Linked DNA regions of Homo sapiens. The protein of the gene in region 1 interacts with the protein of each later gene in a pairwise test. Each region holds a gene or a part of one and is shown on either strand. Other genes may lie near its edges. The genes, in order: ALDH3A1 and ZFTRAF1.

Region 1 (3,803 bases):
AGTCCCTGCTACGTGGACAAGAACTGTGACCTGGACGTGGCCTGCCGGTGAGAGGCACGGGCCTGCTGGCTGCAGCAGTCCTTACTCTGCTTTCCAAGCACACATGACTGCACCTCATGCTGTGGGTCCACTCTGAGTAACACAGACACCCCCTGCCTCATGGAGCAGTGGTCCTTGCAGAAACTTACATGGGGGTAGGGGTGGGGACCACATGCACAGAAGACGTGTGGGGAGTCCCAGAAGGCTTCCTGGAGGGGGAGAGGTCTAGGCTGAGCTCTGTTTGCTGAGTGCGCATCACTGGGGAAGTGGTACTCCAAGCAGAGGCTGCAGAAAAAGCAGCTGTGGGACGTTCAGGACACAAGGAACTGTACTGGGTTCAGCCCTCTGATGGGGCAGGGCAATCTGAGTTCTGGAGAGCAGGCCCAGAGGGGAGAAGGGCCACCGCTGCTCGGGGTCTGGGGCAGAACCCGTATCTGCACCTCCTGACCCTAGCCAGGGCTCTGACCACCTCCATATCCCACATCTGTGGCCCCAGAGATGTAGGGGGGCCCGAGTAGCAGTGACACCTGGCTGTGCAGGACAAGGGCGTGATCAGGGAGCACGGAGGTTGCCCTCAACAGACGTCCTCTAGAAATTCCCCACCAGTCGCCGGTGAACATGATCAGGGCCATTGGGTCTGCTCGGTCCAGTGTCTAGAAGTGAGCAGACCGCTTGGGAGGACTCACTGGTGGCAAGGTCACAGCCGATGGCTTCTGCTGACCAGAGAGCTCAGGGGTCTGCAAAACGAGATGCAACTCCTGGGGAACCTTTTGGATTTAGTCCAGTCTGGGATTCTCACAGACGCATCGCCTGGGGGAAATTCATGAACAGTGGCCAGACCTGCGTGGCCCCTGACTACATCCTCTGTGACCCCTCGATCCAGAACCAAATTGTGGAGAAGCTCAAGAAGTCACTGAAAGTGAGTGTTGACCCCTTGGCAGGGTGGGATGAGAGGCTGTAAGGCACAAGGGGGGCCTGGCCCCTTAACCAACTTCTACAGATTTGGAAACACTGGATTTATTTTCTTCTAATATAAACATAATGCAAGCTAGGCATGGTGGCTCACACCGGTAATCCCAGCACTTTGGGAGGTAGAGAGTGGAGGATCACTTGAGGCCAGAAGTTTGAGACCAGCCTGGGTAACATAGCAAGATCCCATCTTTACAAAATATGTTTTTAAATTAGCCAAGCATGGTGGCATGGTGGTGCATGCCTGTTGTCTCAGCTACTTAGAAGGCTACGGCGAGGCTGGAGCATTGCTTGGGCCCAGGAGTTTGAGGCTGCAGTGAGCTATGATTGCACCACTGCACTCCAGCCTGGGCAACAGAACAAGACCCTGTCTCTAAGAGAAAAAAAAAAGATAATGCACACTCACTATAGATTATTTAGAAAAGATTAAAAAGCATAAAGAAGAAAAAAGCTCCACCCAGAATCCCACCACCCAAAGACAGACACTGCTGGCCTGTGTCTGTGCAGCCTTTGGGCAGGACGAGGCTCTGCGTCCTTACCCGAAGCCCCCACCTCTTCTCCACAGGAGTTCTACGGGGAAGATGCTAAGAAATCCCGGGACTATGGAAGAATCATTAGTGCCCGGCACTTCCAGAGGGTGATGGGCCTGATTGAGGGCCAGAAGGTGGCTTATGGGGGCACCGGGGATGCCGCCACTCGCTACATAGGTGCGTGACCCCTGAAGAGCACAGCCCACCTGCCCAGGCTGCAGGGGTCCCCAGCAAGTTCACAGCAAGTGGGCACAGATGCTTGATAAGCGGACACGACCTCGGGATGGGTATAAATTGCTTTCACCAGGGAGCCTGCGGTAGACTCCAGCAGGCAGGGGCTGAGGACAGCCCCTGCTTCAACCTCAGAATCCCCTCTCCCAGCAAAGGCCCAGAAAGAGGGGCCTCATCTCCCTGCCCCTCTGAAGCAGCAGGAGCAGGGACAGCAGAAGCCACAGGAGCCCCAGGTGTGCCCAGCCGTGAGGGGCCCCCAGTGCCCAGGCTGTGGGTCACCAGATGGGACCCTCTTGGCCCCGAGTTTGTCAAGGAGACAAGAGAATTCTGGCAGGGCATCAGGTGGCCGGCAGGTGCAGTGCCTGCTCCTGGAGACAGATCTCGGGTCCTTCCGTACAGGTTAACCTATAGTTGTCCCCAGTGGTCTGCTCAGATGGCATCCAGGACGCAGGTGCCTAGGGTACCTCTCTGAGGCCTCGTCCCTGCCCTTTTCCAAGCCTGGGCAGGTTTGCCTGGAAAAGGGTTGGAGCAGGGGTCTAGGTGCTTGCACTTTCCATCCGCGTGGGGGTCTCTGCGCCGTCCAACTCTGGCTTGTTTCCTGCCTCAGCCCCCACCATCCTCACGGACGTGGACCCCCAGTCCCCGGTGATGCAAGAGGAGATCTTCGGGCCTGTGCTGCCCATCGTGTGCGTGCGCAGCCTGGAGGAGGCCATCCAGTTCATCAACCAGCGTGAGAAGCCCCTGGCCCTCTACATGTTCTCCAGCAACGACAAGGTGGGTGGTGGGCCTGGGGTGCCCTCTGCCAGGGTCCTGGGGCCCACAGACCTGGGTTCAAACTGCAGCTTCACTGTTCTCTGGCTGTGTGACCTTGGGCAAGTCACTGGATCTTTCTGAGCTCCTTTCACCTCGTCTGTAAGATCAGGACAGCAGCATCACCTGAGGGCACTGAATGAGCGATCCTTGCCCAGGGCCCTGCACACAGGCATGGGGGCGGCTGCTGTCACTCTTTGCTCATGTGGTGCTGACAGCCACGCGGTCTGCAGGAAGAGCAGGAGATGGAGGCTAAGGCTCTGCCTCCACCTGCTCCTGTCCTTGTGGCTCCAGGCTATACCCAGGCAGGGTCGGGTTGGGGGCTGGGGCATCCTGTGGGCAGGAGACTGAGGCCAGTGGCTGGGTCCTGGTGCAGGTGATTAAGAAGATGATTGCAGAGACATCCAGTGGTGGGGTGGCGGCCAACGATGTCATCGTCCACATCACCTTGCACTCTCTGCCCTTCGGGGGCGTGGGTGAGTCTGGGGCTGAGCTTGCTGCCTCCCTCTGGGCCCCAGGGCTGGGCACACTCACCCAGCAAATTCAGGAGGGACCACCTCCTGCAGCCCGGGCGGCAGCCTCCCATTAGCCTCTTCCATTTGGACCTTGGCCTCTGCGTGCCATCCATCAGACACACTTAACCTGGGAGCCTAGAGGTTCCTAGAGGTCACCTGGTGCACCGGCCTATTTCATGGAGGCCTGAGAAAGGTGACCCAGGCCAGAGGTCACACAGCCATTTAGTGGCAGAGCTGGGATTAGACCCTTGCTGGGCACTCCCACAGTGTGGATGCCCTGGGGACACCCTAGACATTGGCCACCCTCAGGAGGCCCAGAAAAGGGCCACAACCTGGGGCTGGGTGCTGAGGGCCATAGGATTTGAGGGAAGGATGGGTGATGGTGGCTGGGGCTCTGCCTCCCTGTCCCTGTGGTTCTGGGATACACCCAACAAGGTGGAGAGGGAAACCTGGGGCGTCCTGGGGGCAGGATGCTGAGCCCTGTGCTTACTTCTCCTCCGCAGGGAACAGCGGCATGGGATCCTACCATGGCAAGAAGAGCTTCGAGACTTTCTCTCACCGCCGCTCTTGCCTGGTGAGGCCTCTGATGAATGATGAAGGCCTGAAGGTCAGATACCCCCCGAGCCCGGCCAAGGTGAGAGGGGGAAGGCGCTGTGGGGGAGACCGGGCTGTGCGGGACCAGGGCCTGGGGATCACTGCCCACTCCGTG
Region 2 (4,093 bases), on another chromosome or scaffold:
CCTGCACAGGATGGGGACAGGTGGGTTTTGCACCCAGTTGTTATCCGGACATGAGCCTAGCCTTCCAGTGCTCTTTGTGGCTGTGGGGGAGCCCCTTGAAGGGCCCAGGACAGCGTGTCCAACGCAGGACCTCAGGGAGCTTGGTGTGAGGGTACACTGCCCATGGCTACCCATCCAGTGGAGGCAGCCACCAAGTCTCCTGCAGTGAGGCTGTGCAGGACCACCACTGCCAAACAGAGGAGAGAACCACGCCATGGTGCGGGGCACACAGGCTCAAGCTTGCACTCTTCCTTCCCCTCTCTCTCCCTTTTTCTGCCTGTCTCCTTTCTCTCCACATGCTGCCACTCTGACCTCATCCTGGGGGGTGGGCTCACAGTTACGTGTGTCCTGCAGGAAGGGGTTCTTAGCTGGATGGAAGCCATATGGGAGGACAGCTTGTTGCAGCCTCCTGTTCGGGGCTCAGTCTGTGAGTGATGTACCTGCCTCCCCCAGGGTAACCCAGTGCAAGTACAAACGCATCGGCTGCCCATGGCACGGCCCCTTCCATGAGCTGACGGTGCACGAGGCTGCGTGCGCCCACCCGACCAAGACAGGCAGTGAGCTGATGGAGATCCTGGATGGGATGGACCAGAGCCACCGCAAGGAGATGCAGCTGTACAACAGCATCTTCAGCCTGCTCAGCTTCGAGAAGATTGGCTACACAGGTGAGGCGCCCCGCCGCCTGCTGCATGCCACACAGGTGTGGGTTGGGGGGCTGGCAGCCAGGAGTCTGGGGGCAGCAGGCTCTGGGCACTGGGCACTGACAGCGCCGGACAGCCGGGCTCTGGACAAGCTCCCGGTGGACAGGTGGACACCTCGGTCGAGAAGACAGGCCGGAGACTGAGTGGAAGGAGGGGCCGAGGCAGACCCCAGGTGCACACCTGTGTGGCTCTCACAGCAGCCCCGCCCACCTGTCCTCGCCACCCTGGCTTCACCATCCCTGCAAGGTGGCATCTCACTGTGGGGCTCCAGAGCCTCAAGACAGTCAGGGTCTAACCAGAAAGTGGGCAGGTCTCAGGGGGCCTGGGAGCTAGGGGCCTGCCCCTCGGACCCTGGGGCAAGAAGAGCACCCTGCCGAGTGAGGTCCTACCTGCAGGCAGTCACTGCCCCGGCCATGGGCCTCTCAAGGCTGGCACGAAGCCATTCAGGGAGAGGGCTCCACAACAAGCTGAGGGTGCCCGACTCAAACTGTAGAACCGGGAGTGGACACCCACAGACGCCCAGGCTGGATGCGTGCGCAGGCACACTGGATCTCGTGGCTCTCTGGGCCGCTGCCACCGCCTTTGAACGTGTCGGGGAGCAGGAGCCAGGCCAGAGCCTGGCCCAGAGGACAGCGAGAAGCACCTGTTGATGCTGGGGCCACTGGAGGAAGCTCCATCCCTCTACTCTCAGCCCACACCAGGCGGCCAGCTCAGAGCACCAGGCGTGGCGCAAGCAGGGTGGTCGTGGGCAGCCAGTCCCGCCCTGCTGCCTGGACTGTGCCCAGCGGGATGTGGGCCCGAGCAGGCCAGAGAGGCCGAGGGCCTGGGGTCTCTGCGGCAGCCACAGCCCGTGGTGAGTAGCAGCCTTAGCTGTCCTGGAGATACCGGGGCCTCGTGGAGTCTAGGCAGGCTGGGGCACTGTGGCTGTGGCCGTGGCCAGGTGAGAAGCCCCATTCGCGCAGGAAAGACTGGCCACCTGGGAACCCACGCCTCCACGGAGGGACTTGCCGGCCACAGGCTGTGGGCTGCCCAAGAGGACTGTGCAGGCAGGGCTGCCTGCTGATTGGCAGCTCCGGATCAGGCCCGGTGCCTGCAGACCTGGTGCTCCCCTCGGGCAGGGCTGGGTGCCGCAGCCGCCTGCTGGCTTTTCTGGCAGCTCCTCTGTATCAGAACCAATAAAGTGCACTTGTTCTCGGAACCGCATCCTGTCTGTGTGTCTGCTTACCCCGCCCTGGGGGACACCCGGGGCTCGGGGCGGTGAGGGAGGCCAGCGTGGGTCGGGCACGCCTGGGGTGTGGCCTGACACGTGCAGCCTCTGGACTCTCCAGCTAATCCATGTTGATTCTGTTTGTGGTTGTTCCCCTCAAAGCTTGTGTGCACCTCCATTTGCCATAGTTGCGTTTGGCTTGCTTGTGACAAGCAGAGCCCGGTGTCCGGGTAAGTTGCCTTCCTCCCCGGCTGAGCCTGCCCTCGGCCTGGTCAGGGAAGGCGTTGCTGCCCAGCCCTGCCCACACTAACAGCCGGCTCTTTCCGGCCCTGTCTGTCTCCACAGAGGTCCAGTTCCGGCCGTACCGCACAGACGACTTCATCACGCGCCTGTACTATGAGACGCCCAGGTTCACAGTGCTGAACCAGACGTGGGTCCTGAAGGCTCGAGTCAACGACTCGGAGCGTAACCCCAACCTGTCCTGCAAGCGTACGCTCTCCTTCCAGCTCCTCCTCAAGAGCAAGGTCACGGCACCGCTGGAGTGCTCCTTCCTGCTGCTCAAGGGCCCCTACGACGACGTGAGGATCAGCCCCGTCATCTACCACTTTGTCTTCACCAACGAGAGCAACGAGACGGACTACGTGCCACTGCCCATCATTGACTCCGTGGAGTGCAACAAGCTGCTGGCTGCCAAGAACATCAACCTGCGGCTCTTCCTGTTCCAGATACAGAAGTAGGGCGGGGCCTCAGGATGTCCGAGGAGCCCACGGGCGGCATCCCAGCACCGCTGCCCTGTCCACCTGGCTGGCAGCTGCTTCACAGGACTATCTGATCACTTTAGCAAAGGAGGAGAACAAACGAAGCCAACACAGGGCAAGTCTGCATGCGTGCGCGACGGGGCCCCCGCCTCCGGCTCACCCCCCCGACCCCTGCCTCCCCTCCTTCCGAGGGCCGCCAGAGGCTGGGCTGACCCGAAGAGGAGACGGTGCACCAGGCGCCCCGAGGCTCAGAGACGGTGGCAGCAAGGAGGCCGAGAGGCACAGCGACCCTGCCCCAGCCCTTCTGTGCAGTCAGGCGGCGGTGCTGCTCCATCCCTGCGGGTTCCGGCGGGGCGCGGGGGCCTTGCTGACATCAGACGGGATATCCGAATATCTGATAGCAATTAAAAGGCAGCCTTGTTTCGTACTTTCTGTTTTGTTCGAGGGGAAGGCATGGCTGTGAATGGACAGCGTGGGGGCTTTGGTTTGGCCTGGGGGTCAGAGCCTGCCCCGCCCCCATCTGTGTGCCCGCACACGTCCCCCGAGGAAAGACTCAGAGACACTGCCTCCCCCTACACTCTGTCATGGGGTCTTGAGACTGAGGCTTGGGCAGGAAGATCCAGGTAGGGTCGGGGCTGCCCTGGCCAACCGGCCGCTCCCAGGGAGACAGGACTCAGCCACCAGGGCTCAGCAGGCATTTTCCGAAAGCAGGGTGAAATTGTCTCTTCCCAGGAAAAAGATTAAACTCCTTGCAGGCTCTTGGATAAGTTACACAATTTTAGTGAGAAAGAGTCTATTTACTGTAGATTCAGCCTTGAGGGCCCAGCGTCCCCAGGCTGTGTGGAAAGCTTGGGTCAGTGCTTGGGCGCCTGGCTGGGTGAGAGTCTGAGGTGTGTCCCCCATGCTGCTCTCGGGGTCCTGCTGCTGGCCCTGCATTCAGGGCTCGCTGCAGAGGTCAGAGGTTGGGCAGCCCAGCTTCTCACCTGGAGGAGGTGGGCCCTTCCCATCCTCACCCTGGCCGCCCCCTGATGTGCCCCGTGGTGGCTGAGCAGGGCTGGCCTAACAGGATGGGAAGGAACCCTGCCTGGAGGGGTAATCCCTGGTCCTTTCTTCCCCTGGGACTCCCAGGGCTACTGGGAAGGATACAGCTTGACGCCCCCACCTTTGCTTAGGAGATGTGGCTCTTCCGTGATAGCTTTTTGTTGCTTCAATACCAAAGAACTGGTTTCCTCTGCTCCAGTCAGGTGCATTAACTTGCCTCACAGCAGCCCAACCCGCCCCCACTGGCTGCTGGGGCCTGGCCCACATTGTCCTGTGCTTTGCTGGTCACGGGTCGAGGGCTGAGAAATGGAGAGGAACTGGGGGCAGAATGTAAGCGCCATCATCCG

The links.
Region 2: the proteins of ALDH3A1 (region 1) and ZFTRAF1 interact in a two-hybrid assay, tested with the Homo sapiens proteins (one large-scale study listed by BioGRID).

What each region holds. Positions count from the first base shown.
Region 1 is NC_000017.11:19,738,248-19,742,050, reverse strand, and holds part of ALDH3A1 (aldehyde dehydrogenase, dimeric NADP-preferring), read left to right. Parts: coding exon 1-47; intron 48-840; coding exon 841-958; intron 959-1,573; coding exon 1,574-1,715; intron 1,716-2,376; coding exon 2,377-2,543; intron 2,544-2,955; coding exon 2,956-3,055; intron 3,056-3,597; coding exon 3,598-3,728; intron 3,729-3,803. UniProt on the Homo sapiens protein: ALDHs play a major role in the detoxification of alcohol-derived acetaldehyde. They are involved in the metabolism of corticosteroids, biogenic amines, neurotransmitters, and lipid peroxidation.
Region 2 is NC_000008.11:144,448,970-144,453,062, reverse strand, and holds the end of ZFTRAF1 (zinc finger TRAF-type-containing protein 1), read left to right. Parts: intron 1-492; coding exon 493-704; coding exon of another isoform or gene 705-883; exon of another isoform or gene 884-1,938; intron 1,939-2,292; coding exon 2,293-2,684; 3' UTR 2,685-3,481; downstream 3,482-4,093. Other genes in the region: TMEM276-ZFTRAF1 (uncharacterized protein LOC157542 isoform 1 precursor), read left to right, coding at 493-704, 2,293-2,684.